4 linked regions of the Homo sapiens genome follow. The protein of the gene in region 3 interacts with the protein of the main gene of each other region in a pairwise test. Each region holds a gene or a part of one and is shown on either strand. Other genes may lie near its edges.

What was found.
Region 1: the proteins of GRB10 (region 3) and alpha-crystallin A2 chain interact in binary tests that used the Homo sapiens proteins (3 or more experiments, as listed by UniProt).
Region 2: the proteins of GRB10 (region 3) and GATM interact in binary tests that used the Homo sapiens proteins (3 or more experiments, as listed by UniProt).
Region 4: the proteins of GRB10 (region 3) and JPH3 interact in binary tests that used the Homo sapiens proteins (3 or more experiments, as listed by UniProt).

What each region holds. Positions count from the first base shown.
Region 1 is NC_000021.9:6,494,210-6,502,709, reverse strand, and holds the start of alpha-crystallin A2 chain, read right to left. Parts: upstream 3,508-8,500; 5' UTR 2,937-3,507; intron 1,691-2,936; 5' UTR 1,516-1,690; intron 1-1,515. Other genes in the region: splicing factor U2AF 35 kDa subunit-like protein, read left to right, coding at 3,538-3,581, 6,630-6,717. UniProt on the Homo sapiens protein: Contributes to the transparency and refractive index of the lens. In its oxidized form (absence of intramolecular disulfide bond), acts as a chaperone, preventing aggregation of various proteins under a wide range of stress conditions.
Region 2 is NC_000015.10:45,361,158-45,368,882, forward strand, and holds part of GATM (glycine amidinotransferase, mitochondrial isoform 1 precursor), read right to left. Parts: intron 7,104-7,725; coding exon 6,913-7,103; intron 5,352-6,912; coding exon 5,214-5,351; intron 5,054-5,213; coding exon 4,889-5,053; intron 3,704-4,888; coding exon 3,640-3,703; intron 2,860-3,639; coding exon 2,743-2,859; intron 1,065-2,742; coding exon 952-1,064; 3' UTR 1-951. UniProt on the Homo sapiens protein: Transamidinase that catalyzes the transfer of the amidino group of L-arginine onto the amino moiety of acceptor metabolites such as glycine, beta-alanine, gamma-aminobutyric acid (GABA) and taurine yielding the corresponding guanidine derivatives.
Region 3 is NC_000007.14:50,772,592-50,780,316, reverse strand, and holds part of GRB10 (growth factor receptor-bound protein 10), read left to right. Parts: intron 1-5,156; exon of another isoform or gene 5,157-7,725.
Region 4 is NC_000016.10:87,639,933-87,647,657, reverse strand, and holds part of JPH3 (junctophilin-3), read right to left. Parts: intron 3,401-7,725; coding exon 2,623-3,400; intron 1-2,622. UniProt on the Homo sapiens protein: Junctophilins contribute to the formation of junctional membrane complexes (JMCs) which link the plasma membrane with the endoplasmic or sarcoplasmic reticulum in excitable cells.

The sequences.
Region 1 (8,500 bases), on a different chromosome or scaffold from region 3:
CTATTATAGTCTGGGGTCTTCACGGGTTAAGTGAGACCATGTTTCTAGATACTGACAGAAGGTGGCACCATAAGCATTGTCCACGAATCCAGCTGCCGTCTCTGCAGATGCATGTCTGCTCTAGAAGCACAAGTGTCCATAATTTAGATTTTCCTTCTGAATGACCAAAAATGCCTAAGGGGAGGAATTTTGGTCACTAAAGAAGAAAATGGCCAAGCGCGGTGACTCACGCCTGTAATCCCAGCACTTTGGAAGGCCGAGGCAGGGGGATCACGAGGTCAGGAGTTCAAGATCAGCTTGGCCAAGATGGTGAAACCCCAACTCTACTAAAAATACAAAAAATTAGCAGGGCATGGTGGCAGGCGCCTCTAATCCCAGCTACTTAGAAGGCTGAGGCAGAGAACTGCCTGAACTGAGGAGGCAGAGGTTGCAGTGAGCCGAGATCATGCCACTGCACTCCAGCCTGGGCGACAGAGCGAGACTCTGTCTCAAAAAAAAAAAAAAAAAAAAAAAAAGAAGAAGAAGAAGAATGTTTAGATTTGTCAGTTGAACCAAGTTTCAGAATATGGCCAGTTTTAAAGATGACACTTTCTCCTTGACCAAATTTCGAATGAGAGAAAAGGCTGCAAACTGTAAAAAGACAAGCAAAACCTCAGACAGAAGTGAAAATCACAAATCTGCAGTCAACAGAATCTCTAGAGAATAAAAATGGAAACTCCTACCTTTCAGTGGAGCTTCAGTTCTAACCCTATCAAATTATTAGTGTGTAAGTCTCAATCTTCAACTAAGCTGGGAGGATTCAGATCCCAAGACTGGCCTTACCAGAGACCCCTGCCAGCCCCAGTGAGGTCGAGTAAACAACAGTCGTTTGTGCTGGTACCAAGGCTCCAACTATTGATGCCACTACTTAGTGGCAATCCCTGAAGGCCTGCTTCAGGTCCTATCTGGGTTGCCAAAATGTCAACCTCAAATAATGAAATTCAGGAAATATGATTAAGTATAGAGTTTATTTGAGCCCAAAGCTTGAGGATGGCTCCCTGGGCACATGCCCCTAGGTTGCCCTGAACATATGTTCCCATTAGCAGCAGTCACAGTGGGGTTTTAAGGAAAAGGAAGAGGCAGTCCCTAAGTTGTTAGCAAGAATTTGCATTAAAATAACAGAAGGTGCTGATTGGCTATGCATCGTTCTTAGCATCACTAATTCCATGTGAACAAGAAGATAATGGGTGAGGCAGCCTGTCAGGAGCAAAAATTCCATCAAACAATTGCCCTGGACAGTTGCTTCTATGGTGGAAGAGGCGCTGAATGAAGTCCCACACTCCTGCCTCTCTGGGCCTGATCATTCTGCACACCTCACAGAGCTCAGACTACCCTATTTTTCTTTTCTCAGGAAAAATGGGTGGATGGTACTGGTGGCCCTGCCTGGTCTGATCATCTACCCTGGTTCTAGTAACCAGATTAATTCCTTGTAATAGAGCTGTGGATTTCAGTTCAGTTCCCACGCACAGACCTTACCTCTGCTTTCTCCGACCACTTCTCCCCCACCCCAGGTACTTCACAGCTGAGAGCCTCTTGCCAGCTTCCAACTCTCCAGCAGTCTTTGTTCCCAGACCGTGTCCTGAGGCTGCACTTTCTGGACATGCCCACCTGCTGGACTGGCATCTGTCTTGTCACTTCTCTGGCCTCACCTCTGCGAAAGGAACACAAAAGTCAGGACCCCAGTTCACTCTGTCAAAAGGAAAAGAATGAGCTGAAAGCTGAGTCATGTAAGCAGCTGCCTTTCCTTTCGTTCCTAAGCAGACGGCTACAGATAGAAGGTTCAACATCCGCTTCTCTTATGTAAAGTGCTGATTTGCTGAGGAGTGAGCTGTACACAGTCGACTGTTCCCAACCTGCTTCTTTTCTCTTGCAACGTGTGGATTACCACACTGTTCCGCTTTCCCCTCCAGCCCACTTTTCCCCTTTAAATACTGAAGCCCTCAAAGTCATCTTTGGAGAAAGGCACAGACCACAGACTGTTTCTGTGATACCGTGTTTTTTTTCCTCCCAGGCATTGTCCTTAACCTTGGCAAAATAAACTTCTAAATTGATTGAGCCCTGTCTCAAGATACTTTTTGGTTTAAACCTCTGAGGCCCTACTGTTTCTAATACAGGTTTCCAGTTTGCTCATCTTTCCCAGGTAGGAAGATGCTCTGTTGCCAAGAGAAATGCAATTCTAACACGCAAATCCGCCCAAACACTAGAGCTCAGCATTCAGCTCTAGCCGAGCTAAGAGGATCCCATGGTCCTGCCCCACAGTCTGGGGCTCATCTTGTGGAGGAGGTAAGTAAAATAGGCCCTGTCTCTCTGACTTCTACCTAATCAGAGTTGATAGTTGCGTTGGAAATTAGGTAAATCGCAGGTGAGTTGATGAATGTGGGAAACCAGATGAAAATGGCTGCTTGATGGGGTTAAAACGCAGGAGAGGAATAGAACCCTTCCAACGGAATGGTTCCAGCCTTGTGACATGAGGAGACTGAAAGGGTATCCCAGAGGCAGGTCACTGGCCTTCCAGCTCCACCTGTGGGTGGCCTTGGCCAGGCAACTGCAAGAGTGCAGGGCCCCGGGGAGGTCGCACCTGGCAAGCGCTGAGGGAGGGTAAAGCGGAGAGGGGTGTGAGAAGAGAAAAACAACACAGAGCGTCCGAGCTATGTGAGGCGTGCGAGGTTAATCCGGCCCGGAGAGACAGGTCTATGCGGCTTCAGCGGTCCCCACCCATGCCTGGCAATTGTTTAAAGGCACTATTGCTCCGGACCCGCTGCCTTCACCCATGAACTTCCTTTCCTGGAATTATGATATAAAGAACAACGTACAGCCAATTAATAGCTTGTTATTTTCATGTAAATTCTTGGTGAGCTATTTAAGAACTGCCCCCCTCTTAAGCTTTATAAACCCACTTGTCACTGTTGCAAATCCTATGTTCAGGGCAACTTGAAGCTATGCTCCCGGGTTGCAATCTTCAAACTTGGCCCAAATAACCTCTCTACTTATATCAAGTTTGCCTCAGCTTTTTTTTTCTTCTAGGTCGACGGTTCCCGCCCCGCAAGGGTGCAGGGAAGGGGACGCCCGCACTTCCTAGTGCTCCCTTAGCTGGGGTCGAGCTGAGCGCCCCCCACCGAGCCCCAGGCGGCTCTGTGGAGAAGCCCCTCGGCCCCGGGTTCGGTCTGCACTGCCAGCCCCCAGTCCCCGGCGCGCAGGATCCAGCAGGGCCAGCGCCGGGCGGGCGAGAAGGCGAGAGAGCTAGGGCCGGGCGGGGAGGGCACCGGCAGGGGGCGCGGGTTCCCAGGACCGAAAAGGCGGAGCCTCCCACGCGCACTACGTGCTCCCTACGCGCATGCGTCCCGCCCACGCGCAGGCAGCACCTCGCCTGACTGGGTAGCGCTGCCACGTCGGGGCGGGGAAGAGCGTCGTCGCGTCCGGGTGACGTCTCCCGCGGGCGTCGGCAGGGTCGGCGGCGTCGGCAGCAGTGTCGACGGCAGCGGCGGCGGCGGGTGGGAAATGGCGGAGTATCTGGCCTCCATCTTCGGCACCGAGAAAGACAAGTGAGTGGGAGCCCCCCGCCGGGGGTTGGGCGCGATCGGGGCGCAGGGTGGTTGAGGCGGTGGGAGGGCGACCGGGGAGGCCCAGGCGGGCCGGCGCGGCGGTGGCGGGGGAGGGGCGCGCGGCGGGAAGGAGCGGTGGCCCTTCCGGCCCCTTGCGCGCCCTCCGGAGCCGCCGCCTCGTGGGCCGCGCGGCGGAAAAATGGAGCGGGGAGAATGAATGGGGTCTCTTTTCGGGGCGCCGCGGCCGAGCTTTCTCCGGCCTTGGGGTCCGAACTGGCTGATCGCCCGACGTCCGGGCCTCCGAGTCGCCGGCTCCCGGAAGCCGCCTCGAGCCGCGCTGAAAGTTGCCTGGAGCATCCGGGCCTTTTGGACGTGGACACGTTTGTTCCAACTTTCGGCTGTGAATGTCCTGTCGAGCAAGCTCTGGTACCAGCCTCGCCAGTATTCAGTCGCTTATCTAACTTAGGGTCCTAAGCGTTGGTGTTTTATCCACTTAGCCAGCCTCTTGCCTGTTTAAGCGACCGCTGGGCCGGCAGTAAGGAGATATGACGAGAAAAAGTATGGTGGAGACTACTGGATTAACTATCTAACCACAAGAGACGTGATCCGCTCTTAACATACAGGTGCTCCTGGATTTACCATGGGATTGCGTTCCGATAAACCCATCATGAATCGAAAATGCCTTTAATACCCCGATAAACCCATCATCTAAGTTGAAAATTTGTAAGTCGGTGACTGTTCTTGAAGACACAATTCTGATATAAGGAAAAAGATGTTTTGATTTTTTCCTTAAGGTTGCATGCCTTCCCTAATCAATCGTTAGGTTAAAAGCAAAACATTTAATTTCAGCTTTAATTGCCACCTTGGCACGTACTAATTTCCAGTGAGTTGGCTGTAGTTTAGACTAAATGGAATGTTTTCAGACGTTTGAAGGATAATTCTTACTTTGAAAACCTAAAGACTCAGCATCTGGCTTAATCTACTCTTTAGTTATCTTGGCATTCTTCAGTGCCATACAAAGTTAACATGACTTTATGTTTTCAATGATAAACCCCTAAGTTTGTCATAGATGTTTTTAATGCCACTTTTTTCAAACGCTATTTAAAATGTTTCTCTTTTCCAGGATGGAGTCTATCTTGTAAAATGTCCTCTTCACACATGGTAGAATCTCCTGTGTTGTTTGGATGAGGAGGCTATATTTCTAGCAAAATTTTAAGCCAAAATCTACCAGTTATAGTCACTCCAGAAACATTTAGTGGGGGTCAACTATAGGTCAGTTTCTGGAGACTTAAACATGGGTAAAATTTGGATATTATCCTTAAGGAACTCACGGTATGATCTTGGCGAATGAATAGACCAGCTCTATCGGAACAAGAGACTCTTCTGAGTTTAGGGTGAAGAACTAACACATGTAGGATCGGGGCATCATTAATTTCTCCTTTTCATATTTGCATGTGGCATGACTTCTGTCTTGTAAAAGTCTATCTCCCTATATTTCTGCTATAAGCAACCACATTTCAATCTATTGGGCTATACTATAAAGGTCATGGTTTTAATTCAGAAAAGTTGATTATTTAATCTAGGTTACTTGTGTTTTCTTTTCAGGGAGACGTGGGGTTTTAGCTTCCAGGGAACAGGATCAACTCCTGAAAAATGAAGCTGATGGTTCATATTAACTTTAATTATTATTTAAGCTAAGAATAAAATATAGATCTCTACCAATTAAAAAATGTTTAGCTTATTATATGTTTGAAGTTATAGATGTTTTCTAGATTCAGGGATATCCTAATAGCTTGTCTGTAGTTTAATTGTGTGGAATAATTGGATATTAATTGTTGAGGCCCAGGGCTTGCCCATTCTGAGGTAGTTTTTAAATAAGCTTTCTTTATTTTTAGATGACTTCCTAAAGATATGCTATTGTCTAATCAAGTTAAATAATCTCAAGACCTGTAAGTTTGCAAATATATATAATCACTTTCCTCTCCTGATAAATTTGGACTTTCCCATCTTTATTGCTACCTGATAATAAATCAGTGGCTAGTCAGTCTTCATGGTCCATCAGATTTCACTGAGGTTGAGGCCCTTCAATCTTAACTCTGGATTGACTGTTTAAAACATAATGGCACTTGGTTAAAAAAAAATTGAATTTTGAACAAAGTCTGTCTGGTAAGATGTCCTAATTCATCAGAGATCGGCTTCCCTCCCTGACATTGCTGGCACACAGGCATGATTGCTGGTTCCATTGGATATGGATCTGGATTGTCAGCGTATTTGAACAGTATTAAGGGAGGGTTTTGCAGTAGAGACAGAAGGTGACGTAAGGTGGTTCCTAAGGTGGGTTTGGTCAGTCCCCTAATAGTTTGTTTTCAGTGTATTGAGACCAGGAGAATTGATTTACTTCAGACCTATTTTTTGAAACTCCCTGTTGGTCTGGTGTCATGCGTTTAGAGAGACTCTGAACTTCGTTTTCTGTTTTCCTTAGATAATGATAGCACTTCATGAGCACCATATGTGAAGCACACATACGTTCTGTCTGACTCTCAGAACAGTGCCACATTGGCATTGTCATCATTTACAGATGACATCTGAGAGCTAGGGTGACTTGCCCAAGCCCAAGCAGCTGGTAGCAGAGTTGGGATCTTAACCCTCACCACACCGGTCTTTTCAAGAGAGAACTTGGTCGTGGAGAACTGGAGAACAGATACTGCCTAAGTTACATTTAGTTTTAGACTAATTTAATACTCCATTTAAGAAACAAACAGAACAGCTGTGCAGTTAGGAAAGTGGAGGGGATTTGAATGAGGAGGAGGCGGGTTAGAGTTAGAACCGTCTTTGCTGAACAAGTAGTGTGTTTGCAGAAAGGGAAGTTGAAGTTACGTTGTCCTAAAATACAGCAAGGAAGAGGAGGTGCTTAATACCACGGAAAAAAGTCTGTGTCATGTTTCTGTGAGGTTAAAAGTAATTTGATAGTGTATGTCATGCTGCTGACATATTCCATGTGTTTGATATCTTCCCAGCAAAATAATCAGCTCTCATTTTCCCTTACAGAGTCAACTGTTCATTTTATTTCAAAATTGGAGCATGTCGTCATGGAGACAGGTGCTCTCGGTTGCACAATAAACCGACGTTTAGCCAGGTTTGTTTGCCTTTTTTTCATGTAAATTATAAAAACTTCATGTTCTTTTCAAAGACAGTTAATTTCTACATATTAAGCAAGTCATTTTTTCTCTCGTAGTTGTATTTTCCATTTGTGTTCATAAGTGTGTTCTTTTATTTAAATAATAGTGAGGCAGGTGATCGACTTCCAGTGGAAGGTCTGAGACCACCACTCCTTGTTTTTATCATTAGAGAAACTTTAAAAATCAGTTTTTGATGTTTGTGTGTTGGCTGTGCCTGATATTTGCTGCCCTGCCATCTTCCCTACCCCCTCTGATAGACATGGGTCCAGAGGGGGTGGCCGTGCCAGCCTTGGGTTAGCCTCCTCCAGGCACCAGTGGACACGGAGTGGGCTTTCTGCTCTTTGCTGTCTCCAGACAGTAGAGGTGATGGAGCCATCTTCCAAGTTAGCGTGATTGTCACCAGGCCCATCATGCTGCTCGAGCTTCTCTGGCTGCGTCCTCACTTTCACATCCCTAGCTGAGGAAACAGCGAGTCGCATCACGTCATGGAAACATGAAAAATTAAGCTGAAAGGTAGAAAATGGGCCGTAAATTGCTCTTAGCGGGTCTGTTTGGTTAATTGAGGAGTGCCTGTTATCTTGGGCTTAGATCCGCTCTGAGTTCAGTTCAATCAAAAGTTGTGAGTTTTGATAGTTTTATTTTTGGTTAGTTGAAGAAAAGGCAAAGGTTGGTACACTATAAAGGATCACTTACGGATTAAAGGGAGAAGGCACCTCTAATCGGAGCAGAAAACTTGTGCCCACGTTGATGAGAACATTTGAAATTTGAAAATCGATGCCCAAGTCTTTCCAGATGGAGGGCTGGGGAACTCCTTCCAACCCACCCTTGAAGTCTAAATGTGCAGCCTCTGAGCTGTTGAGTAGCTATTATGCGTGGTCCCTGGGAGCTGCCAGGCTCTGCCTTTGAGCTCACATCTGTCTGTATACGTTTTCCTGTAAGCATTTAAGAAAATCTACCACTTTGTGTAAGTGAGCTGGGAGAAGGAAACATGGGTTTTTTCCGGTTGAAGCCCATGGACGACCCCACAGCACACAGTGTTTTTAGAAGGGAAGAGGATGATGGCTTTTCCCTCCATTATGCTAATTACCAAGTGGTTAGTATAATAGCAGTCTGTCTTTTGATAGCTCTGAACATGAGTTTCTTTTTACAAATTTCAAAATCTTGGAGAACTAGCTTTACATTTTCTGTGTATTGCAATTGTTTTTTCTTTAATGTTTTGATTTATGAACCGAATCTCCCCTAACTAAACCAGTGGCCATGGATTGTGGTATAACCAAGCATCTTAAGTGACCACCCAGTTCTTTGATTTTGGGGGGTGTCCCAAGTGTTGGGCTGAGAGAAATCAACTGTTCCCTATTCTAAAAGTTTTCTTTAATCTGGCTGGAGGCACTTTCTTTATGTTTTTCTGGATCATAGATTACCTGAGAATGTGAAATGTGAAGTTAATTTAGGCATTCCAGGTCAGTGCTGGGGAGAGCCCATTGGAGCTCGATGGGGTCAGTAGTATGTGTCAGCTTAAGCATCCTAGTTTGATGCGTGGGTTTGTTTTGGTTGGTTTTAGGCAATCCTAGCCACCCTTGGCTTTCCCATTAGACTGCATTGCCTCTTTACGTTAAGCTTCCTTCATTAAATAGCCACTGCCAGAATACCTGAGTGAGACCAACTGAATTTTACTGTTGAATAATTGGGCTCAGTTTAGCTTTTCATCAGGGTTGTCATGGTACGGTCATTTCAGTTCAA
Region 2 (7,725 bases), on a different chromosome or scaffold from region 3:
AATACACATACGGTATCAACACTAAAATTATTTCACATCGCATTTAGGTTTTACCTCCATTAGTTTTTTTTAATGCTTATAAAGTCTATGCTCTAAATAATTTGCACATTTGTAAACAAATCTTAGATGACCAAAGATGCAGTGTATCTATCAGATATTGAATATCAAAACTTAAGGATGGGAACTGATAGCGAAATCCAATTACACTAAACATTCCTAAATTTTTGGAAAGAGAGAAAAAGATTAAAATAATTCACTTGAAATGAGGTAAGATGTATATGAAAAGGTTTTTAGTAGCATATATCACAATGTTGAGATGAGAATATTAAAAACATTCATGGAAAATTCACTTTGATGTTTTGCATAGTCTAGGTTATTTTTTAAAAAACAAAAAATTAAAAATTACCCAAATTCCTTATTAGAAAAAGAGACAATTACCTGGTTCTACTTAGGATCTGTGTATGTTCTAAGTCTTTCTCTCCTTTAGAAAAAAAGAGATAATCTGATTCTATTTTGGATCTGTGTACATTCTAAGTCTTTCTCTCATTTAGAGAAAAACATTCTCAAGTCTATAGAAGAGGAAAAAAAATTAAGATTAGGACCAACATTTCAAGCTGCCTTTTGGAAAGAAAATTAAAAACAGAGGTAGATGGTTAATTATTAGTGGCCAAGTTACTCAGGTGACTAATTTTTTCTTGGTACACATTCACCAAAATTTTATACTTGAAGCCAAATAGTAAATAACTTTAGGAGTAGAGAGTAATACCTAGCAGAAGTTATTTTCTTTATGTCAAAGAAAAGTAATAGAAGCAAACCAGGCTTACGACCCCTGTTAAGGAGATGATTGTTTAAAGCACTACAGTTCATGCACTTTTTAAAGCAGGAGAATGAACCTTGCCCCTAAGCTTCTTAGGTGTATCTGAGGCCAGCCACAAGCTCCATCAGGCCTGTTCAGTCCAAGTAGGACTGTAAGGTGCCTCGGCGCCGGACATCGCAGGTCCAGCAATGGAAGCCTCCTCCCAGGGAATTGGCATTACGAATGTTAACTTTAATGGTAGTGATACCTGCATTGAAAGAGAGATGAGGTCAGTTAGATGGACTAACATGACGATTCTCATAGAGAAAGTAGGCCTACAGACTTGGAGGAGTCCTGTGGTTCTAATCCTTAAGGATACCCAACCCAGAATAGTATTTTCTCTTCCAATTTTATTTTCACCAACTATATTTCATCTGCTAATATAAAATCTTCTCCAAAAAGTCAACAGAGAACTCTGAAGTTTTGTTCTATTGACTATTCACAAGTCAATAGACTGAGCAGATGTACCTACCAAATGTTCAAAATGGTCAAGTACTAAAATCTCAAGGCCTTTTAGAATTATACATTAACTACTTTGTCAGACTGTTTCTAATTTTACCATGTTAATTTAGTAGGCAAAGCAAAATTTAGCTGACCTAAAAAGCTGACTTTACATATTCACATATAAGGAGAGTTTATCTGATACAGATTAACTTCACCAGGCCACCATAAGGAAACAATGGAACAGAGCTGGTGTTTTAATATCTGGGTTTGTATGGTTATACAGGTACCAAAGCAAATCCAACAATCAGTTTAATCTGGTACCATCTGTAATGACAAGGCTATGATGTGCATGGCCTATTTAACCAATGGTATTTAGGAAGAATCTGTTGTGTTAGATATAGTGGGGTTTTAAAAAGAAAATCTATTATTCTTCCTCAAGGAGCTAATTATTTTGAGAGGAGGATAGGCTACAAAGTCACTAAAGGGTCCATTGGTATAGCCAGGGAGAGGAAGGTGGCATGAGCCATTCAGAAAGACTTTCCTAGTCGCGCATGGTAGCTCACACCCATAATCCCAATGCTATGGGAGGCATAGGTGGATGGATCACTTGAGGTCAGGAGTTCGAGACCAGCCTGGCCAAGCCCCTCTCTACTAAAAATACAAAATTAGCCAGGCATGGTGGTGTATGCTTGTAATCCCAGCTACTCAGGAGGCTGCGGCAGGAGAATCGCTTGAACCCAGAAAGTGTAGGTTGCAGTGAGCCGAGGTCACGCCACTACACTACAGCCTGGGCGACACAGCTCTGTCTCAAAATACACACACACACCCCTTTATAATAGCTCATATGAAAATCCTTTCCCTTCAACATTTTTCTCAATAATACTAGAATCATTGGTCTAAATTTTGAATATCAGGATAAGTAAACTACTTAAGTAAAACCTGGTCCTGCTCTTCAGTTCAAAACTGAATGATTTACTGACACACTTTCTTGCATTTCGCTACTTTGTTAACTATGCTTATCACACATAAAAGTCACTTCTGCATCCGTACCCTTTTGAGTCCTTTGAAATATGTGATGACAGGACACTTTTAAAGGACCCACAATGATTTCTTATTTGAAGAAGGGCTGAACAAGCTATCTGCTCACCTGCAAAGGGGTGGTTTTCTGCACATGGGCACCAAAACGTTGGCTAAGTCATATAAGATTTATAAACTTATTGTTAAGGGGATGTCTCAGGAGCTCAGGATGCATCTCCAACTTGTTGGGGCTACGTGTGTTGAAAATAAAAATACTGACTTTCTGTGAAATAATAACTTGGTGCCTCTAAAAGGAATCAAAATTGAATTAGACAAACCATTTATCAAACCTAGCATGTCATTTCTTTAGTTCTTCTCATTTAACGTTTTCATGTATGACAACATGTTTCATTTGTTGTACATACCCAGCTTTTCAAACATCTTTTGAATTGGAACTTCATTGGCATCCACCATAACACGTTTTTCATCTAGCATTAAGACATTCATGGAAAGCCATTTGGATGACATCCAGAGTGGATGATCTAAAAACAGCAACAACTGTTAAACCATGTCCGCTATCATTTTTGTTTAAAGCAAGGATTTACAAGTGAAGAATATTAAAGTGACAGCTCAGTTCTTTCAGTAGTTCACTTTCCATGTGAACATTTATTTTAATCTTAAAACAATTTATCTATAAATGGTATGAATCAATCTGTACTCATTATACATTTGAATTTCACCCTGTTTTCTTTTAAAAGTCATATCTTGGCTGGGCATGGTATAATCCTAGCACTTTGGGAGGCTGAGGCAGGAGGATTCCTTGAGCCTAGGAGTTTGAGACTATTGCCCAGAGATGGTGCCTCACTGGGGAACACAGCAAGACATCATCTCTACAAATAAAAAAAAATAACTTGCTGGGCATAGTGGCCTGCATTTGTAGTCCCAGCTACTTAGGAAGCTGGAGTGGAAAGATCACTTGAGCCCAGGAGTCTTGAGGCTGCAGTGAGCTGTGACTGCACAACTGCACTCAAGCCTGGGTGACAAAGCAAGACACTGTCTCAAAAAAAAAAAAAAAGTCATATCTTGCTTTACGTGATGTTGTTTTATTCTGTCTTCTCCTTACTTCATTTTCTATGGATGAAAAAGTTGCAAACACAAGTCCCAGCCTTGTTCTGATGCTCACAGTCCCAAGCACCACTTCACACCTTACTGAGGAAACACATTCTCTAAGCTGCTAACATTTGGGCTGCTCTCTATAGGAGAAAGATCCTTGGTCACTAAAGTAATTATTTTAGTCTAACAGTGTATGAAAGTAAACATACCGTCTGGGATGATTGGTGTTGGAGGAGTAATGATAGTCCATCCTGCTTTCTTGAAAAGATCAATCTGTAAGACCAAAAAAAACCCCCAAAACCGTTAAATCTACATATACTATTATTATTATTAGTCTCTAATAGCCCTTATCAGTAATAATTCTCTTTGAGAAGCTGTCTTCTCAGCTTCCAAAAGAAAGAAATTAAAATTTCTAAACATTTGGGTGATTTTGTCTGAATCCTAATTAAAAATGTACATAAAATCCCCAGATTAAAGTTAAAAAGTAACAGAAATGTTACAGCTTTTAAAGATAGTCTTAACTTTTCTCAGGTTTCAGAGACTTAAAAAACCAAAGATACTGTCCTTAAGAAATTCTCATTTTAAAAATTGAAAAATTTCCTATTTAGTTACAAGAAAACAAAAATGTGACTACATCAAACCCACAGTCCTTCTACTTCTTGCCCATCATTTTGTATCTAGGACCATGGTATAAAGACAGTTGTTAGCTATGCATTCTCAAAGAACCATATTGTCCTTAGTGACCTTTTACAACTTAGCCGTCCCTGTGTTCACATACCCACTTACTATACGAATAAATGATAATAAAATGAAATGAATAAGTAGTCATGGTCATCGGGTTTAAAAATAAAAAACAGAAATGAACAGTGACACAGTATAACAGTGGTTTTTAAAAGTTGTACTGCAGCCTTGCAAGTAACAGAAAATCACTCATCACCTAACTGGAAGTAGGAGGCTATGGACAGAAAGTAGGAGGCTGCAGGTGAAGGGGATAGACCAGCTGCAGTGCAGTGGCTTCACTTTTCCCTACAGAGCAGGGTTGGCCAAAGGGAGGCTACCCCACTGTAGAGGGAATACAACCACTGCCCAGTGGCATTGCCCTGGCCATGCAAGGATGATCTTGTCCAAAATTCGCTGCTGTGGAACCACTGTTGCAAGTTATAACACCATCGTTTGATAAAAATACACACATATGCACAAACTTGAGGCTCTGACAACAGCAAGTGGCCAAAGTCTGATGATCCCATACTAATTATTGTGTCAACTATGTATATTTCTGCATGGTGGACATCTTGTAATAAGCCATAAGGAATCCAATGTTTGATCATAATAATGTTGAGTACTGCTGAATCTGTCATTTAGAACCATTAGGAACCATGGAAGTGCTTAAAATAAAAGTGGCAATTATTTTAGTTACTAGATTCTGTTGCTTTTCCAGAGTCCCAAGAAATCTCTTACCTGGTGACATGGTCGGTCAGGGTTGGAAAGCACAATACCAGGTCCAATGATGTTGAAGGTAGCATCAATATGCATGGGATTGGGATCTTTAAAGGAGATGATATGCACTCTGTAGTCTGGAGCAAGATGCCTACGCATCCATTCAATGCCTAGGTAGTTTGTAACCTGAAAACAAAAGAAAGACATACGATCGATAAATATTTGGTTCTATGTCTAGAAAACTAAAAATATTCAAGGTGAAAAAAATTTAGGATGAAAATATTTTAATTTGGAAGTAAAGAATACAATAATATAGTGTGAAATTTCAGAGGCAGCCTGCGTTCACCTGGCTTCTCTGTGCAAAAATATCTCTTCCAGCTCGAATGAAGTCAGCAGCATCAAAGCATGGCTCAAACTCAGTTGTCACAAATTTTCCCTGAGCAGCCAATTTGTGTCTGTCTTCTACAGAGTGGATGGGATAATCCTAATTGGAACAAGAATGAACACACACAATGCACTGGATCATGAGAAAATTATTCATAAGGCATACAGTACTAAGAAAATTAGTTTAACATCATTTCCCAAAATATTACTACTCAGTTCTAGACTAAAACATGCCTGGGAAAGAAGCGGGTCCATGATAAATAAACCAAAACAACAATAAAACAAGAAACTAGCATTATAGTAATTTCCTGATACAACAGTCCTCCTTTACCCATGATTTCACTTTCCATGGTTTCAGTTACCTTCAGTCAACTGTCGTCCCAAAACATTAAGATATTTTGAGAGAAACAGAGAGACCACATTCACCTAACTTTTAGTAAAGTATATTTATATAATTGTTCCATTTTATTATTCATTATTGTTGTTAGGCTCTTACTGTGCCTAATTTGTAAATTAAACTTTATCATAGGTATGTATATATGTACAGGAAAAAACAAAATATATAGAGTTCAGTATCAGCATCCACTGAGAGTCTGGAACATATCCCCTGAGGATGAAGGGGCACTATGTACTTAGAAAAAAATGGTACACACCAGGTGAGATGGCTCATGCCTGTAATCCCAGCACTTTGGGAGGCCAAGGCAGGTGGATCACCTGAGGTCAGGAGTTCGAGACCAGCCTGGCCAACATGGTGAAACCCCGTTTCTACTAAAAATACAAAAATTCGTCAGGCATGGTGGCATGCACCTGTAATCCCAGCTACCCAGGAGGCTGAGGCAGGAGAATTGCTGGAACCCGGGAGGCAGAGGCTGCAGTGAGCCGAGATCACGCCACTGCACTCCAGTCTGGGTGACAGAGCAAGACTCCATCTCAAAAAAAAAAAAAAAGTGATACAGAGGCAGTAACTGATTCTGAGAATATTCCATGAACCGTACGGAAAGTAAACAGGATGAAGTCATTCTGTTCTTTTAGAAAAGGAATTTGGTCCCGAGCTTAACTCATACCATAAAACGAGATGCCATGTTTCCCCTGCCAAATTTGATTGGGAGTGGCAAAACTAATTCATTATTTATTTCTGTCTTTAAACCCAGAAGCTATTTTGATTTTTAAATTTTTTTCTATAAAAGATCAAATGGTAACTGATTTAATAAGGGACATACATTTCATTTTACTGTGAATTTGAACTGTAGATCAGGTTCTTTTTCTAGAAGAAGAAAGTGAACTTCAGTCTAGTGACTTTTCTGGTTCCACTAATGAACAGTGGTACACCTGTAGGCAAGTTTTTCCCCATCTAATGGAATGATACTACAGTATGATTAGGGTTGTTGTGAAAAACAAACAGGATTGAGGATGTAAATAAAGGGTTTAACCCAGGACCCAGAACAAGGTAAGCACCAAAAAGTGTTAGCCATTATTATTATTATCATAGGATCATTTACTCTTATCATATTCATCATAAAATAATCACTTTTTAAAAATAAGATGATGTTTTCGGTTTCTAAAATGCATAATATATACAAGGTATCAGAGAATCTCTATCTTACTCTTTGTGGATCATTTAGAAAAGTTAGTAATAAGCTAGCCTATAATTAGGGACTCACCTGGTTATAAAGCTCATCAGCCATTGTGGGCTTAGGAGCTGTTGTCCACTTGGCGCCACGGTGGAAGTAGTCTTTGATAATTGACCTGTACGCTCGGTACTCAAAGAAGCGTGAACGCCATGCCATGGGAGCCTCGATAATCTCATTGCCCACAACTATCAGGATGTCTCGAGGCATTGCACTGTATAAACCTGTCAGACCAAAAAATTCCATGACAACTTCAGTAGTGTTAATTTCCAAGACAAAAAAGGTCTATATAGGGCCAGGCACAGTGGCTCATGCCTGTAATCCCACCACTTTGGGAGGCCAAGACGGGCGGATCACTTGATCCTCTTCAAGAGCAGCCTGGCCAACATGGTCAAGCCCCATCTCTACTAAAAGAATACGAAAACAATTAGCCAGGCATGGTGGCACGTGCCTGTAATCCTAGCTACTCGGGAGACTGAGGCAGGAGAATCACTTGAACCAAGAGGCAAAGGCTGCAGTGAGCCGAGATTGTGCCACCACACTCCAGCCTGGGCGACAGAGTGAGACTCTGTCTCAAACAAACAAACAAAAAATGTCTATATAATATTACCTCTTTTTTTGGTTAAAAAAATTGCTAGAAATACATGTGTGTATATATATATGAAAATAGCAAAAAATTCGAATAACACATACTAGATTGTTAACATGAATTGTGTGGTGGGGGGGAAGCCCAGAAAAAAAAGAAAAGAAAAAAAAGTGAAGGAATAAAGTCCTTGTACAAAGAGATCTTGAACCACCAAGCTTTCACCATTTGTAAGCTCCTTTCTTGCTATACAGAAACACAGC
Region 3 (7,725 bases):
TTAAATAACTTGGCACATCTGGTAGTGGGCATGGCCATGCATCACGTGCAGAACTGGTGTGATGGACCATATTTTCTCATATTTCACAGAATTCACTGGCTGGGCATGATCCACAAAGTCCTAACCCATCCCAAACCCTGGAACCCTTTCCATGACGGTTTATTCTGATTTGTTCAGGAGACACATTTCTTCTGTTTTCATGTGGAATGGGCTTTGTTCCTCTCACGGCCGGCAGAGGTTAAATTAAAGGGGCCAGAAAATGCTGAGCTGTGACTAGGATTGGGGGGCCAGTAGGCATTTATTGGCCCCGTTTGCTTCTTTCTTCCCTTTTTTTCTCTGCCTCCTCGGTCAGGGGGTCCAGGACTATCTCTCCAGGGGCATTTCTGGTCTGTGGAGACTTGCCTGAAGGCAGCTGGAAGAGTCTGGGCTGAACTCTAGATGCCTCAGGCTCAAATCTCATATTAGTGAGGGAAGAAAATTCTAAATGTGTAAATGGTACCTGTAAGTCACCTACAAATAATTTTTTTCCTTTCCTGTGCAGTGTCTGGGAGCCAGCTTCTGAGTGTTGTCAAGGTAGTCCTGGTGGCTTGAGACTGGTGATGTGCCGTTGCCAACAATGGCTGTGTAATTCTGAGCAGTTGTTCAGCACTCAAGTGGGATGAGAATGGCAAGGAGTGCTCTGGGTGGCTTTTGACAAGGGACCCCGCCTGTCATTCACTCAACAGGTGTTTGAGGAGCCAGTCTGTCTCCGTCATCTGTTCCTGCCTTACTTAGATGGAAAATAATGAAATCTGTGTAGGAAGGGAGGGTGAGTAGAGGGATGGCCTGTGTTGACTGAACAATAAAATAGTGATGTTAATATATTTTGCTTATTTATTTTCTTAAAGGGAGCTGGCACGTTTCAGTTCTGATACAAGTTAAATATTAACAATGTCTGAAAATACCACAACTTAAACTTTAATATGCATGGGAATCTCCTGGGGCTGATAATAAAATGCAGCTTCTAATTTAGTTGGTCTTGGTTGGGACCTGAGGTTTTGGGTTTCTGACCAGCTCCCAGGTGTTATGCTTGCAGTTGGTCAGTGGCCCACACTTTGTGCAGTAAGGTCTTAATGCATTTCCCCCTGTGTTCACTTTAGTGTCTTTTTCTCTAGAAATTCTCTGAAGAGGACACTTTACCTGGTAAGAACTATTATTAATAATGCTATTACTTAATCTAAGAATTTTTGTACCAAGAATTTTCTAGTGATTAGCCCTACATTGTTGTAAATGACATTCTTAAATGTGTCCATACTTTATTCCAGGGGCAAATATTTGTACAGTGTCCTGCTTTGACATTTGTTTGGATTCCTGTGGATTTTATTTAGTGGTTTCTCTTTTGTTTATGATGATAGAACACTTTTAGAAAGGTTTGAAACCTTTTGAATCTTGAGCGGATTTGGAAGCCCCACCTGCCTTCTTTTAAGAATGTAGGAATTGTATCTGCTTTGAGCTTGTGCATGCTAACACCCCACTTCTTCCAAGGTCCTTGCTCAGTGCCTTCATGTCTCAGCATCACAGCCTGGAACCTGGAAGGCCTCCAAGCCATAGAAAGAAGCAATAAAGATGTCCCAGTGGGGCTTCTGGCTGGGGCCCTTGCCTGTTTCTGTCAGCGTTAGCCCGACCCTACCCTTGGAGGTAGGGTTGGGTTGTCCCATTATTTCCCTGTCAGGGTAGGTGGTATTAAAGCAGCTTTTGTCTTGCTTGCACTGTGAGTCTGTTCTGTGTATAAGGCTCCACTGTGTGGATCACCTCTACTTAATGCCACCTTTTGAAAAATTCTACCACCAAAGTTCTTCCTTGGATAGCAAAGACATTTTTGAATGTTTGTATTTGTGCCTGCCCTAGTTGATCAGTAAATGCATTGATGGGCTCCATGGGACTTTGGACCCATTCCTTTGTCATCTTTCATTAACAGTCTTCCTAGGCTGGTGGTGATGTTGGGCAACTTAATGCTTCCTGAAGGTTTTAGATACTACAGGAGCTAATAATTTATTGCCAAATAAGTGAGGAAACTTTGGATTAGATAAAGTTGGTTTCTTTATGGCACAACATTTCAGAAAATTTTGTGTGCCACAATGTATTATGACACTTTAAGAGGAAGATGGCTAGACTATGGTGGTTCCAAATTTTGGGGGGTCGGGGTGGAGTTAGAACCCCTCTTGTGCTGATTATTTCATTAGGCTAGTTTTTTCTTTCTTTAGTTCCGGGATACATGTGTAGAACGTGCAGGTTTGCTACATAGGTATACGTGTACCATGGTGGTTTGCTACATCTATCAACCTGTCATCTAGATTTTAAGCCCCCCAAGCATTAACTATTTGTCCTGATGTTTTCCCTCCCCTCAGTCCCTCTCCCCTCCCTGACAGGCCCTGGTGTGTGTTATTCCCCTCCCTGTGTCCATGTGCTCTCATTGTTTAGCTCCCACTTATGAGTGAGAACATGCAGTGTTTGGTTTTCTGTTCCTGTGTTAGTTTGTTGAGGATGATGGCTTCCAGCTTCATCCATGTCCCTGCAAAGGACATGATCTCATTCCTTTTTGTGGCTGCATAGTATTCCACGGTGTATATGTACCACATTTTCTTTATCCAGTCTATCATTAATGGGCATTTGGGTTGGTTCCATGTCTTTGCTTTTGTAAGTAGTGCTGCAATAAACATAGGTGTGCATGTATCTTTATGGGCTAGTTTTTTCATACAGTCCTCTCTTAAAAAAAAAAGCTGTATTGAGGTATAATTCACATACCATACAATTTACTCATTTAAATTTGAAGTATATAATTCAATTATAATTAGTATATTTACAGATATGTGCAATGGTGTGTGTGTGTGTGTGTGTGTGTGTGTGTATACAGATTGCTGTGGTCTGAATGTATCACCCAAAATTCATGTGTTGAAACCTAATGGCCAACGTGATGTTATTAAGAGGTGGGGCCTTTAGGAGGTGTTTAAGTCATAAGAGTGGACATAGATGGGATTAGGGCCCTTTTAAAAGGGCCTGAGGGGGAATGGGTTTGCTCTCTTCTGCTCTTCCACCATATGAGGATACAGCATTTGTTCCCCTCTGGAGGGTGTGGCAACAAGGCACCATCTTGGAAGCAGAGAGAGGCCCTCACCAGACACTGAACCCCAGTGCCTTGATCTTGGACTTCCTCTCTTCCAGAACCATGAGAAGTAAATTTCTATTATTTATAAATTACCTAACCTGTGGATTTTGTTATAGCAGCACAGACAGAAATTGATACTGAGAGTGGGTGTTGTTATAGCAAATACTTAAAAGAAAAGTGGAATTGGGTAATGGGTAGAGGATGGAACAGTTTGGAAGTGTTTGCTAGAAAAAGCCTAAATTTCTGTGAACAGAGCATTAAGAATGATTCTGGTGAGGGCCCAGAAGAAGAGGAGAGCCGTAGAGATAACCAGTGTCTTCTTAGAAACTTCTAAGTGGCTGTGATCAGAATGCTGGTAGTATTATAGACAGTAAAGCCCGTTCTGCTGTGGTCGTATATGGAAATGAATATCTTATTGGAAACTGGAGGAAAGACAGTCCTTGCTACAAAGGCGCAAAGAACTTGGCTGAATTGTGCCCATACTCTAGGGCTTTGGGGAAGGCAGAATTTAAGAGTGACAACCTAGGATATTTGGTGGAAGAAATCCGTGAGCATAGTATTCAGTATGCTGCATGACTTCTCTTAATTGCTTACAGTAAAATGTGAGAGAAATGAATTGAAAATGGAATTTATAATCCAAAGGGAAGCAGAGGCTGGGCACTATGGCTCATGCCTGTAATCCCAGCACTTTGAGAGGCCAAGGTGAGAGGATTGCTTAAGCTCAGGAGTTCAAGACCAGCCTGGGCAATATAATGAGACCTTATCTCTACTAAAAGTAAAAAAAAAAAAAAATTAGCGGAGTGTGGTGGTGTGCACTTAGCCCCAGCTACTCAAGGGGACTGAAGTGGGAAGATCACTTGAGTCTGGGAGGTCAAGGCTACAGTGAGCCATGATTCTGCTGCTGCGCTCTAGCCTGCGTGACAGAATGAGACCCTGTTTCCAAAAAAGAAAAGGAAGCAGAATTTAAGGATATGGAAAATTTTTAGCTTGCCCAGGTTGTAAAAACATGTTTGGGAGAAAACACTAAGGGTGTGGCCAAGTGACCTTTTGATAAGGAGATTAGTATGGATAGAAGGAAGCCAGATGCTATTCATCAAGATAATGGAAGAATGATCCTGAAGGCATTTCAGAGATTATCAGTGCTGCCCCTCCCATCAGAGGCCCAGAGTACCAAGGCCCAGGGAACAGAACTTATGTCAAAGGAGAGGCCTTGGGCGTCTGCAGGACCTCAGCATTCACTGCCTGGCATCACTTCTCTGCTCTCTGCATTACAGTGCAGCCCTCCTTGGATATCCCAGCTGTAGCTCAAGGGGGCTCAAGTGCAGCTAGTTCCATTGCTGTGGAAGGCACAGGGCATAAGCCTAGGTGGCATCCACATGGCGCTAAGTCTGCAAGTATGCAGAGTGCAAGAGCTGTGGATGCATGGCTACCTTCACCTAGATTTGAAAGGATGCCTCAGAGAGTCTTGGGCTCAGACAGAGAATTGCTGCAGGATAGGTCTGCTGCAGAGACTCCCTGCTAGGATAATGCCTAATAGAGCCATGGGGCAGGAGTGCCAAAAAGAGCCCCCACTAGGGCAATGTCCAGCAGAGTCTTGAGGCTGGGGGCACACTAGCGAGCTCCCACAAGGACAATGCCTAATGGAGCTGTGGGGGTGGGGCTGCCCTCGAGAGCCTGTAACTGTAGAGTTACCCGTGTGTAGTGCCAGCCTGGGAGAGCTGCAGGTACCCAACTGCAACCTGTGAGAGCTGCTATGAGGGCTGTGCCCAGCAGTTGGCTGCAGGGCTGCCCAGGTCCTTGGGAACCCAACTCCTGCCCCATTGTGTCTGGAAGGCAGGACATGGAACCAAAGATTTATTCTCCAGCCTTACCATTGATTTAATGTTTGTCCTGTTTGGTTTTGGATTTGGTTGGGAAATGTTACCTCTTTTTTCTTTCCTATTTCTCCCTTTTGTAATGGGAATGTCTGTTCTTTGTCTGTTCCACTGTTTTTTTTTGTTTTTTTTTTTTGGAGACAGGATCTCACTGTGTCATTCAGGCTGGAGTACAGTGGTGTGATCTCGGCTCACTGCAACCTCTGCCTCCTGGGCTCAAGCTATCTTCCCACTTCAGCCTGCTGAGTAGCTGGGACTACAGGCGTGTGCCATCACGCCCAGCTAGTTTTTTTTTTTGTTTTGTTTTGTTTTTGGTATTAGAGATGGGGTTTTGCCATGTTGCCCAGGCTGGTCTCGACCTCCTGGGCTCAAGAAGTCCGGCCGCCTCAACCTCCGACAGTGCTGAGATTACAGGAGTGAGCCACTGCTGAAGTCTGAAGTACTTTGCCTCAGGTTGAAACACATCTTTGAGTCTCACATGTCTGATTTAGATGAAATTTTAGACTTCAGACTTTTGAATTGATCCTGGCCTGAGATAAGACATTGGGGCTATTGGGATGGAATGAATGTATTTTGTATGTGAGAAAGACATAAATTTGGGGGACTTGGGGTGGAATGCCATGGTTTGAATGTTTGTGTCTCCTTATGGCCTTATCACTTCCCCAACGCAACTCTATTAAGAGGTATGGCTTTTGGGAAGTGATAAGGTCATGAGGGCTCCAGTCCCATGAATGGATTCTTGCCCCCATCAAAGGGCTGGAGAGAACTAGCTAGGATCCCCTTTTTGCACTTCTGCATTCTGCCATGTGAGGGCACAGCAAGAAGGCCCTCACCAGACACCAAGTGCTGGCATCTTGATCTTGAACTTCCCAGCTTCTAGAACTGTGAGAAATAGATTTTGTTCTTTATAAGTTATCCAGTCTCAAGTATTTTGTTATAACTGCAGAAATGAATAAACACACACACATACATTGTATATAGTGTTCAATTAATATATTCACAGCTATGTGCAACCGCCACCATAGTCAATTTTAGAACAAAAAGAGACCCTGCACCCTTTAGCTATCATACCCCCACTCCCTGCCATCCCATTGCTCCCCCTGCTTTCCCAACCCTAAGGAACTCTACTTTCTGTCTGCATAGATTTCCCTGTCCAGGACATTTCATGTGAATAGAATCGTCTGTGGTTTTTGTGAGTGTCTTCTTTCACTTAGCATAATGTTTTCATGGTTAATCTATGTTGTAGCATGCATTAGTACTTCATTCCTTTTTATGGCTGAATAATATTCCCTTGTATGTGTAGTCCCAGCTGCTTGGGAGGTTGAGGCAGGAGAATGGCATGAACCCGGGAGGCGGAGCTTGCAGTGAGCTGAGATCACGCCACTGCACTCCAGCCTGGGTGATAGAGCGAGACTTCGTCTCAAAATAAATAAATAAATAAACAAACAAATAAATTCCCTTGTATGTATATACTACTTTTTGTTTATTCAACTGTTGATGGACATTTATGTTTCTACCTTTTGGGTATTGTGAATAATGCTTCTGTAAACATTGGTGTATAACTATCTTTGAGTACTTGCTTTCCATGTTTTTGTATATATGTCTAGATTATAATTGCTTCATTATATGGTAATTCTATGCTTAGCTTTTTGAGGAACTGCCAAACTGTTTTCTAGAGCAGCTGCACCATTTTACATTCCCAATAATAATGCACAAGGGTTTCAGTTTCTCCACATTCTTGCCAACACTTGGCATTTTTCGTTTCCTGTCCTCTCCTCTCCTCTCCTCTCCCCTCCCCTCCCCTCCCCTCCCCTGCCTTCCCCTCCCCTGCCTTCCCCTCCCCTCCCTTCCCCTTTCTCCCCTTCCCCTTCCCTTCCCCGTCCCCTTCCCCTTCCCCTTCCCTTCCCCTTCCCTTCCCATTCCGCTTCCTCTTCCCTTGCCTTTCTTCCCCTTCCCCTTCCCCTTTCTTTCCTTATAGCTGTCCTAATAGGTGTTACATCGTTTGGCTGTGTCCCAAATCTCATCTTGAATTGTAGCTCCCATAATTTCCACATGCTATGGGAGGGACCTGGTGGGAGGTAATTGAATCACGGGGTTGGGTCTTTCCCATGCTATTCTAGTGATAGTGAATAAGTCTCATGAGATCTGATGGTTTTATAAAGGGGAGTTTCTCTGCACAAGTTCTCTTCTCTTGTCTGCCACCATGTGAGACATGCCTTTCACCTTCTGTCATGATTTTGAGGCCTCCTCAGCCACGTGGAAATATGAGTCCATTAAACTTCTTTCTTTTGTAAATTGCCCAGTTCTCTGATATGTCTTTATCAGCAGCATGAAAACGGACTAATACAAGGCATCAGATGATTGCTCATTGTGGTTTTGATTTGCTTTTTGTTACTCAGTTGTAGGAATTTATATATTCTAGATATTAATACTCTTATCAGTTATGTGATACGCAACTGTTTTGTCCTTTTCTGCAGGCTGTCTTTTCACTGTCTTCGTAGTGTCCTATGACGCACAAAAATTTTTAATTTTTGATGAAGTTCATTTATTTTATTCTTTTGTTGCCTGTGCTGTTGGTGTCATATCTGAGTAGTCATTGTCAAATCCAATGTCCATATAAAGATTTTTGCATATGTTTTCTTCTAAGAGTTTAACAGATAATTTTATTTCTTCCTTTCCAATTTGGATGGCTTTCATTTCTTTTTC
Region 4 (7,725 bases), on a different chromosome or scaffold from region 3:
CCTTTCTCACAAAGGAGCTACGATCCAAGACCCCAGTTGTGCGCATGCGGAAGCAGGAACCACCTCCCTCCCCGCGACGCCCGCTCGGGCGAAGGGACGGAGTCAGCTCGGACTCCGCCAGTGCAGAAGGCAAGCCGCAACCTGCCAGGGAGCATGGGCTGCTGGGCCTCAAAGGCTGTCGGGGGGTTGGCAGGGGGTGGGCTCCGTCAGTTTCACAGCTGCACCAGCCTGCAAACCCATCCTTTCCCTCTCACTCCCTCCACCCGTCTGTCTGTCCTTCTGTCCATTAAGTAAAATGCCTCCCCAGGAGACACAGGGATGCTGGCCATGCCAAGGCTGGCTGGCCAGCGTCCCAAGGGCTGGGGACTCAGTAGGAGCCGTGCCCACCCCACCCTGGCCCCGGCTCCTTTGCATGGGTCTCAGGTCTCGCCCTCCCGGCCCAGCCCCTGGGCTTTCACCCCAGCATGATGCCCACTTATACGTAGGCATCTCCCCCAGCAATGCTCCACAGAGCCCCTGGGCCCCCCAAAACCCCAGGAAGAGGTTGGATGCCCCAGGAAGGGAGCTGTTACCACCTAAGCTTCACAGGCCTTCAGAGATTAGAAGTTGAGGTCCAGAGAGGCTGACAACCTGCCTTGGAGCAGCTCCTCACCTGTGCTGCCCCCAGCCCTGTCCATGCCACCTGGGCTCCTTAATGGGAACCCGCTTCTCTTAATGTCTAGGGGAATTCGTCTGAAAACTATCTCAGGTCGCAGGTCCCCCCAGTCCTACAGACATCCACCCAGTGCCAAGGCTGTGAAATAAGCTCAGTCCTGCAGGGCACTGTCCACTAAGTCCTCGAGCTGCTGAGAACTCATGAACCAATGAACTCATGAACCAATCTGCAGGTCACACGGAAGCTGCCACGAGCTTCCTCAATTCCGTGACGCCGCTGTCCCCCAGCCCCCAAAACTGCTTCTTGTCCACTAGGGTCAAAAAAGCAACTATACAAAATAGAAAGGGTCGAAAAACAAAACACAGAGGAAAGAAATTCACCAAAATGCCAAGGAGAGCGCTCGGCCGATCCATCAGACCAGAGCTAATGCTGCTTTCTCCCTTCTCAGTGTTATTTATTTTCCTGTGGAACAAGTATTACATTTATGATGGAAAAAATAACTACTGATTCTAATTTGTTCTTAAAACCCCAGATGAGTAGTCACACGTGGGCTGCTGTTTATTTCCCTGCCTGAACATTTCTGAGGGAGCAGGGAGGGGCAAACAGCGAGTTTGGACCTCGGTGTCAGGTAGTAATTCCATGTTTCTTTCAGCTTCTTGGAATCGATCTTGATTCCCTCTAAAACAATAGAAGTCGCGAGCAACATATTCTGCCAACAAACCGCAGCCACCATTTTTGTTTTTCACTATAGATCAAAGGTCACTGAAAATCAGAACCAAATGGGCTGAACTTTAATTAGCGACAGGTCGGGAAGGGCTGAGCCGCACCCAGGCTGGGAGCTTTCCTGGAGGAACTCCAGGTCTGCCCCTGGCTGAGAACACAAAGCCATCCAGAAAGACGCAGGGGAACGTGCCCTGGGAAGCCTCCTGCCTGGGCAGCCCATGGACTCCCCCGCAGCTCCCAGATCCCTGCCCCAAGACTCTCCGGGCTACCCCAAGGGCCCTCGTCTGGCCCAGGAAAGCAAATGCCGGTGGAAAGCAAAGGCTCTGGGTTTTCTGAAATGCCTTCCCAAGTCTTGACAAAGCCCTTTAGTAACCTCAGTTACTTTAGAACCCAAATGCCTACCTGTGGGGCCCGTGGCTTTCCACAGGGGAACTTCCTCCAACCTGCAGCAGGTGGCTCCTGCCAGCCACAGCTTGGCGGGGACCAGCCCCTGGCTCACACACTCACCTCCACAGGAGCCAGACCCTGGGCACCTTCCTCCAGCCCTAAAGGCCCCATCCTGCACCCACCCCTAAAGGTACCCAAAAGCCACGTCGATCCCACCCACAGTCACCTCTGGACCCATTCCTTAGGGCCTAGAGGCCCCACTGGACCCCAAATTCCGTAAGTCATGCAGCCGATTCAGAACAGCGGCTGCCCCCAAAGCACCAGGCCTGCATGAGCCCCTTGCCAGGCACTCGGAATTGGCCTCCCAACTGCTGCCATCTCCCAGGGTCCCGGAAGAATCTAGATCGCAGGTCTGGGTAGCTGAGGCAGCTCCTAGCCACCTCCCACAGCCCTGCAGTGCTGGACCTGCCACCCCCACCTGGTGGTGTCACCCCTACTAGCTAGCACAGCAGCACTCCAATGCATTGTACTAACGGAACAGACCACCTTCTTTATTCACCAATATTTTACACTAAACATCAGCATATAGAACAAAGAGACACTGCTCAGTTTAAGGAGGCTGTAGGCCTCTACACCCCCACAAATCAACCATTCCTCTGCACCAATCCTGACCACAGTCACCTCTGAGAACCTCCAGGGAACCCTAGGGTTCCATGGGGGCATAGTTTGAGAAACACCAGTGTAGGCCTCAAACTGGGCCTAGCCCAAGGCCTTGAGCGACAGCAGGACTGAACAGACTGGGCTCACAAACACCTTCTGGGCACCAAGAAGGGCCCCCCGCCCCCTCGCCCTCCTACCTGGAAGCCGCGATCTCAGCCTTCTGCTTGGCGATGGTGGCGGCCCGCTCAGCGGCCTCAACGGCGCGGTCCACCTTCTCGCGGATCTTGCTGGCCCGCAGGGGGATGAGGTTCTTGCGCTTGCCGCCGACGAGGATGTTCTGCTTGTACTTGCCCTCCTCCTTGGTGCCGTCCGGGAAGGTCATGCAGCCGTAGCCATGGCGCCGGTTGCTGGCCCACTCGCCCTCGTACTTGAGCCCGTCCGAGCGCTGGCTCACGCCGAAGCCGGAGCGTTTGTCGTTCTTCCACTCGCCCACGTAGGTCTCGGTGGTGGTGGCGTCGATGTCGTCCTCGATGACCGCCAGCTCGGCCTCAGCCTCGCCCAGGCTGATGGTGGAGTGGATGTCGCTGGCCGTGGAGCTGACGGTGCTCATGCCCGCCTCGCTGCGAAAGGAGCTCTGCTTGCTGCGTTGGCTGGCCAGGCTGCTCTTGGACTCCGACTTGCGCAGCTTCAGCCCACTCAGCAGCGAGCGCCGAAACAGCCCCTTCTTCTTGCTCTTGAGGATCTCGGAGTCACTGTGGGCCACGAGCACGAAGCCCCCGCGGGACACGGCCGGGCTGCCGGCCACCGCCGGAGAGGCGTCGGGATGCAGCGCCGTGCCGTTGGTGTGCTCGCTGCGCAGGGAGTTGATGGACGTCCTCAGGGGTGAGCGGATGACCGCGGCCATGCCATACGGGACGCTCTGCCGGACGCCGTAGCCCTGGCGCATGCCACCGACCCACTGGCCCTGGTAGGTCCCTGGGGAGAAAATGAGAGAGGGGTGAGTGCCCAGCGACAGAGGAGGGGGCACAGCCTGGCCACGGACAGGGTTGAAGCAGCCACAGTCCTGTCTGAGCTTCCTGTTGTTTTGTGTTTTTTGAGACAGGTTCTCGCTGTGTTGCCCAGGCTGGAGTGCAGTGAGACCATCACAGCTCACGACAGCCAGGAACCCCTGGGCTCAGGCGATCCTCCTGCCTCAGCCTCCTGCGCAGCTGGGACTACAGGCGTGCACCACCATGCTCCACTACTTTGTAAATTATTTGTAGAGATGGCAGTCTCATTATGTTGGCCAGGCTGGTTTCTAACTCATGGGCTCAAGTGATCCTGCCTCAGCCTCCAGAAGTGCTGTGATTACAGTCATGAGCCACACCACTCCTGGTGTGCTATCTTGATGAAACCTGGTGAGGTTTGCGTGGAGGCAGACAGACCATGGTACCTTCCTACAACTTCTATCACCAGTGGCTGTTTTTGAAGACACCTCCATCCTGCTTCTCATGGCTAGATCTTGTTCTCTCTTGGAAATCGGGGAGGGAGAAGGGAGGCATCAGAGTCTGTGGTGCAGAGTGAGGACCACAGAACCCAGAGTGAATACGGAGCCCCTGCCAAGGGCACAAGGAAACGCGTCCTGGGTTAGGAGGCTAATGAGTGGCAGCTACAGGGACACAGGTGTGGGCTACACACTAAGCCCTGAATGGGCTGCTCTGGGAGACAGTGAGCTCCCCATTGCTGGAGGTATCCAGGAAGACCACACAGTGGACACACCATGGAAGAGATTCAAGGGCATAGGGAAGGGACAGTGGCCCATGACCTTCAGACATAAAATCAGCAGACCTGATATCCCCAGAAGAAGGGAGGGTGGGGACTGCAGCAGCTGCCTGTGCACCTGGGTTCTCAGCAGCACTGTTTCCATGGCTGGAAAGGGAAAGGCAACCCACAAGTCCATCACCTGGTAAATGGACAGACGCCATGCGGTCCGTCCATACGATGGAACATCATTCAGCCTTGAAAAGGTAGAACATTCTCACACAGGCTGCAATGTGGATGAACGCTGAAGACATTACACAGAGTGAACTGAGCTGGGCACAAAAGGCCACATATCGGATGATTCCATGTACACGGGGTCCTTAGAGTAGTCACGCTCAGAGATGCAGAAAGCGCGGTGGGTGCAGGGGCTGGGGAGGGTTGTGGGGTCAGTGTTGAATAGGGACAGAGTTTTGCAGTAGGATGATGGGAAAGCCTTGGAGGTAAACAGTGATGACAGCTACCTAACACCGTGAAGGTAATTAATACCACTGAATTGTATACTTAAAAGTAGCTAACGTGGTACATTCTGTATTTCTCTTACCACAATAAAATAAAAAGGAAACCCGGTCAGCAGACCTGGGCCCATGTCTTGCTCTGTGAGCTGTGACTCAGGGAAGTTTCTGGGCCCCGCTGGCCCTCAGTGTCCTCGTCTGTAGAGTGGAACCAGGACTCCTCATGCCAAAGGTCACCGTGAGGACGGCTGGGCCTCAGCACGACGCCCAACGCGGCAAACCTCAAGCCTCATTTGTCATTTGAGCTTCTCCCTGCAGCCGGGCACTAACGGCGTGGATGTGCCACCCTGGAAAGGGCTTTTGCGGGGAGAACAGAGTCCGTCCACCACTCTTCCAACTCACGGTGGCACAGGCTGCAGACCAGAGGCCTGGAGGCCGAGACTTACTGATACGTAGGTTTTATTCGTCCCACCGCTGTTTTCATAAAACATTGGAATTACCTGCTAACAACTCAAAACCAAGAGATTTGACATAAAAATTCAGCTCTCTTCTGTCTCCTGAAAAATGAGGACCTGGCCACCCCGACCTCTCTTTTCAGAGGACAAAATGGACAGGAGCTGGCAGCAGCTGCTCCTGTTCTGCCAGTCACTTTTTAAACGGAGAGGCTGCAGCGGGTGGCAGGTGCCGCCATCTCTCGGAGCGAAGCAGCCCTCCACTCCCCACTGCCCCCCCCCTTTCCCTAGCCAGGCCCCCTCCACTCACACGCCCCACACCAGAGGGTGGGATCCAAACTAAGTGTGGAATTCAAAGTCCTGTAGCCTCAAGTGACCTGTCCGTCCCCAGGGTATCCCCACACCCCGCCACCTTCACCCGCCACCCCCCAAAGGGTCCTGATCCTTCCAGGCTTTTCTGTCCAAGGCTCTGTTCACGCTCTCTCCTCTCTCACACTCCCACCCTCCAATCGAATCCCATGGGCTCCAAGCCAGCCCCACCCCTCCTCCACAGCACCTCCAAGCACCCCAGGGCCCGGGCCCAGAGCCCCCATGCCCGGCACCCGCGGCATCCAGACTCAGGACAGTGGCTGGGGTCTTAGATGTTCCAGAATGTATCTTCCAGCTCAACCACATCACGAGCCCCCAGAGGGACTTGTGTTGCAGGCCCCTCACGCCCCATGTGGCATATGGCCCAGCCAGGGCAGAGAAGGGGCGTGCAAAGATCACCAATCAGGCTGCAGCCCCGGACAGAGCCCCTGAGGCTGCCTCACTCCAAGAGATGGTGGCACCTGCCACACGCTGCAGCCTCTCCGTTGAAAAAGGAATCGGCAACGCAGCCTCTGAGGGCAGCTTCTCCAGGAGCAGAGCCTGAGCTGGGGATCCTGTGAACGTGACTTATTTGGGGCTGGAGAAGGGGGGTACCAGGAAGAAGGACGTGGCAGCAGAGGACGGGGCCGAATGAGGTGGTCTCAGCGAGAGGTCAGCTTCAGCCTCGTCCCACTTTCAGGCAAGGGGATAGGATGTTTGGGATCCCACACTGGTCGGTCATTCTGTACCCCCAAAGCTGCTTGGGGAGGCAGCTAACCTGGAGGCAAGTCCACTGCCATCAACGTCGGAAACAACCTCACTGCCATCAACATCAGAAGCAACCTCACTGCCATCAACATCAAAAGCAACCTCCGACTCCAGTGATGGGGCTCCTGCCCTCCCACCCACTAGGCTGTGGCACCTTCTCCTACAGGATGCCAAGAGCCGGGCAAGCAGGGATGTATGTGGACCGGACCCCAGGGACCCCACAACACCACTGCACACCTTTCCAGAGTGTCAGCCTCAGCCTCTTGCCCAGAGGTCCCAGCACTGGGGGCAGTTGTGATGGGCACGGGGAGGAGGCAGAGGGGGCAGCTGACTCGGAACCACCCGGCACCCCAATGCGAACCACACTGGGGGGAAACCCTGTGGCTTGCTCCACACCCGAACGCCCTTCCAGGCTGGGGTTGTGAGGAGGAAACTGGAACTAGGCTCGGTGGGTCTCAGGGGGTGGCCCTTTACCAAGGCCAGACCCGCCCACACAGTGGCCTTCCCATGGCCAGTCCAAGCTGGACACAGGCTGCCATCACAGGGACCCTCACCCCAAGACTGCACCCTCAGCGACTGCCCCTTCCGTGCCAGGGCTGTGGACAGGGTTGTCACATCAAACACAGGACGCCTGGTAACATCTGAGTTTCAGATGAACAACACATCGTTCTTTAGGGGACACGCTGCATGGGACATACTTATATTTAAAAAGCGTTTGTTGGCTGGGTGGGGTGGCTCATGCTTGTAATCCCAGCACTTTGGGAGGCCGAGGCGAGCAGATCACCTGAAGTCAGGAGTTAGAGACCACGCTGGCCAACATAGTGAAATCCTGTCTCTACTAAAAATACAAAAAAACTAGCTAGGCATGGTGATGGGTGCCTGTAATCCCAGGTACTCAAGAGGCTGAGGCAGGAGGATCACTTGAACCTGGGAGGTGGAGGTTACAGTGAGCACAGATCATGCCACTGCACTCCAGCCTGGGCGACAGAGCAAGACTCTGTCTCTAAACAAATACATAAATAAAAATAAAAAGCATTTGTCGATTACCTGGCATGCACAGGTAACCGGACAACCCTTTTTTTTTTGAGATGGAGTCTTGCTCTGTCGCCAGGCTAGAGTGCAGTAGCGCGATCTCAGCTCACTGTAACCTTTGCCTCCCAGGTTCAATCGATTCTCCTGCCTCAGCCTCCTGAGTAGCTGGGACTACAGGCATGCACCACCACACCCAGCTAATTTTTTTCTGTTTTTAGTAGAGACAGGGTTTCACCATGTTGGCCAGGATGGTCTCAATCTCTGGACCTCATGATCCGCCCACCTCAACCTCCCAAAGTGCTTGTTAAATTGGGCCCCCCCTCAGCTGGAACTCCAGGAAGGTGGGCTGCCCCCGCAAAGTGGAGGATGACCCTGGAAAGAGGAGAGGCTCACCCACTCCCTGAGATCCCTCCTCCATCAAGGGATGCTCCAGCTTACAGATACAGAT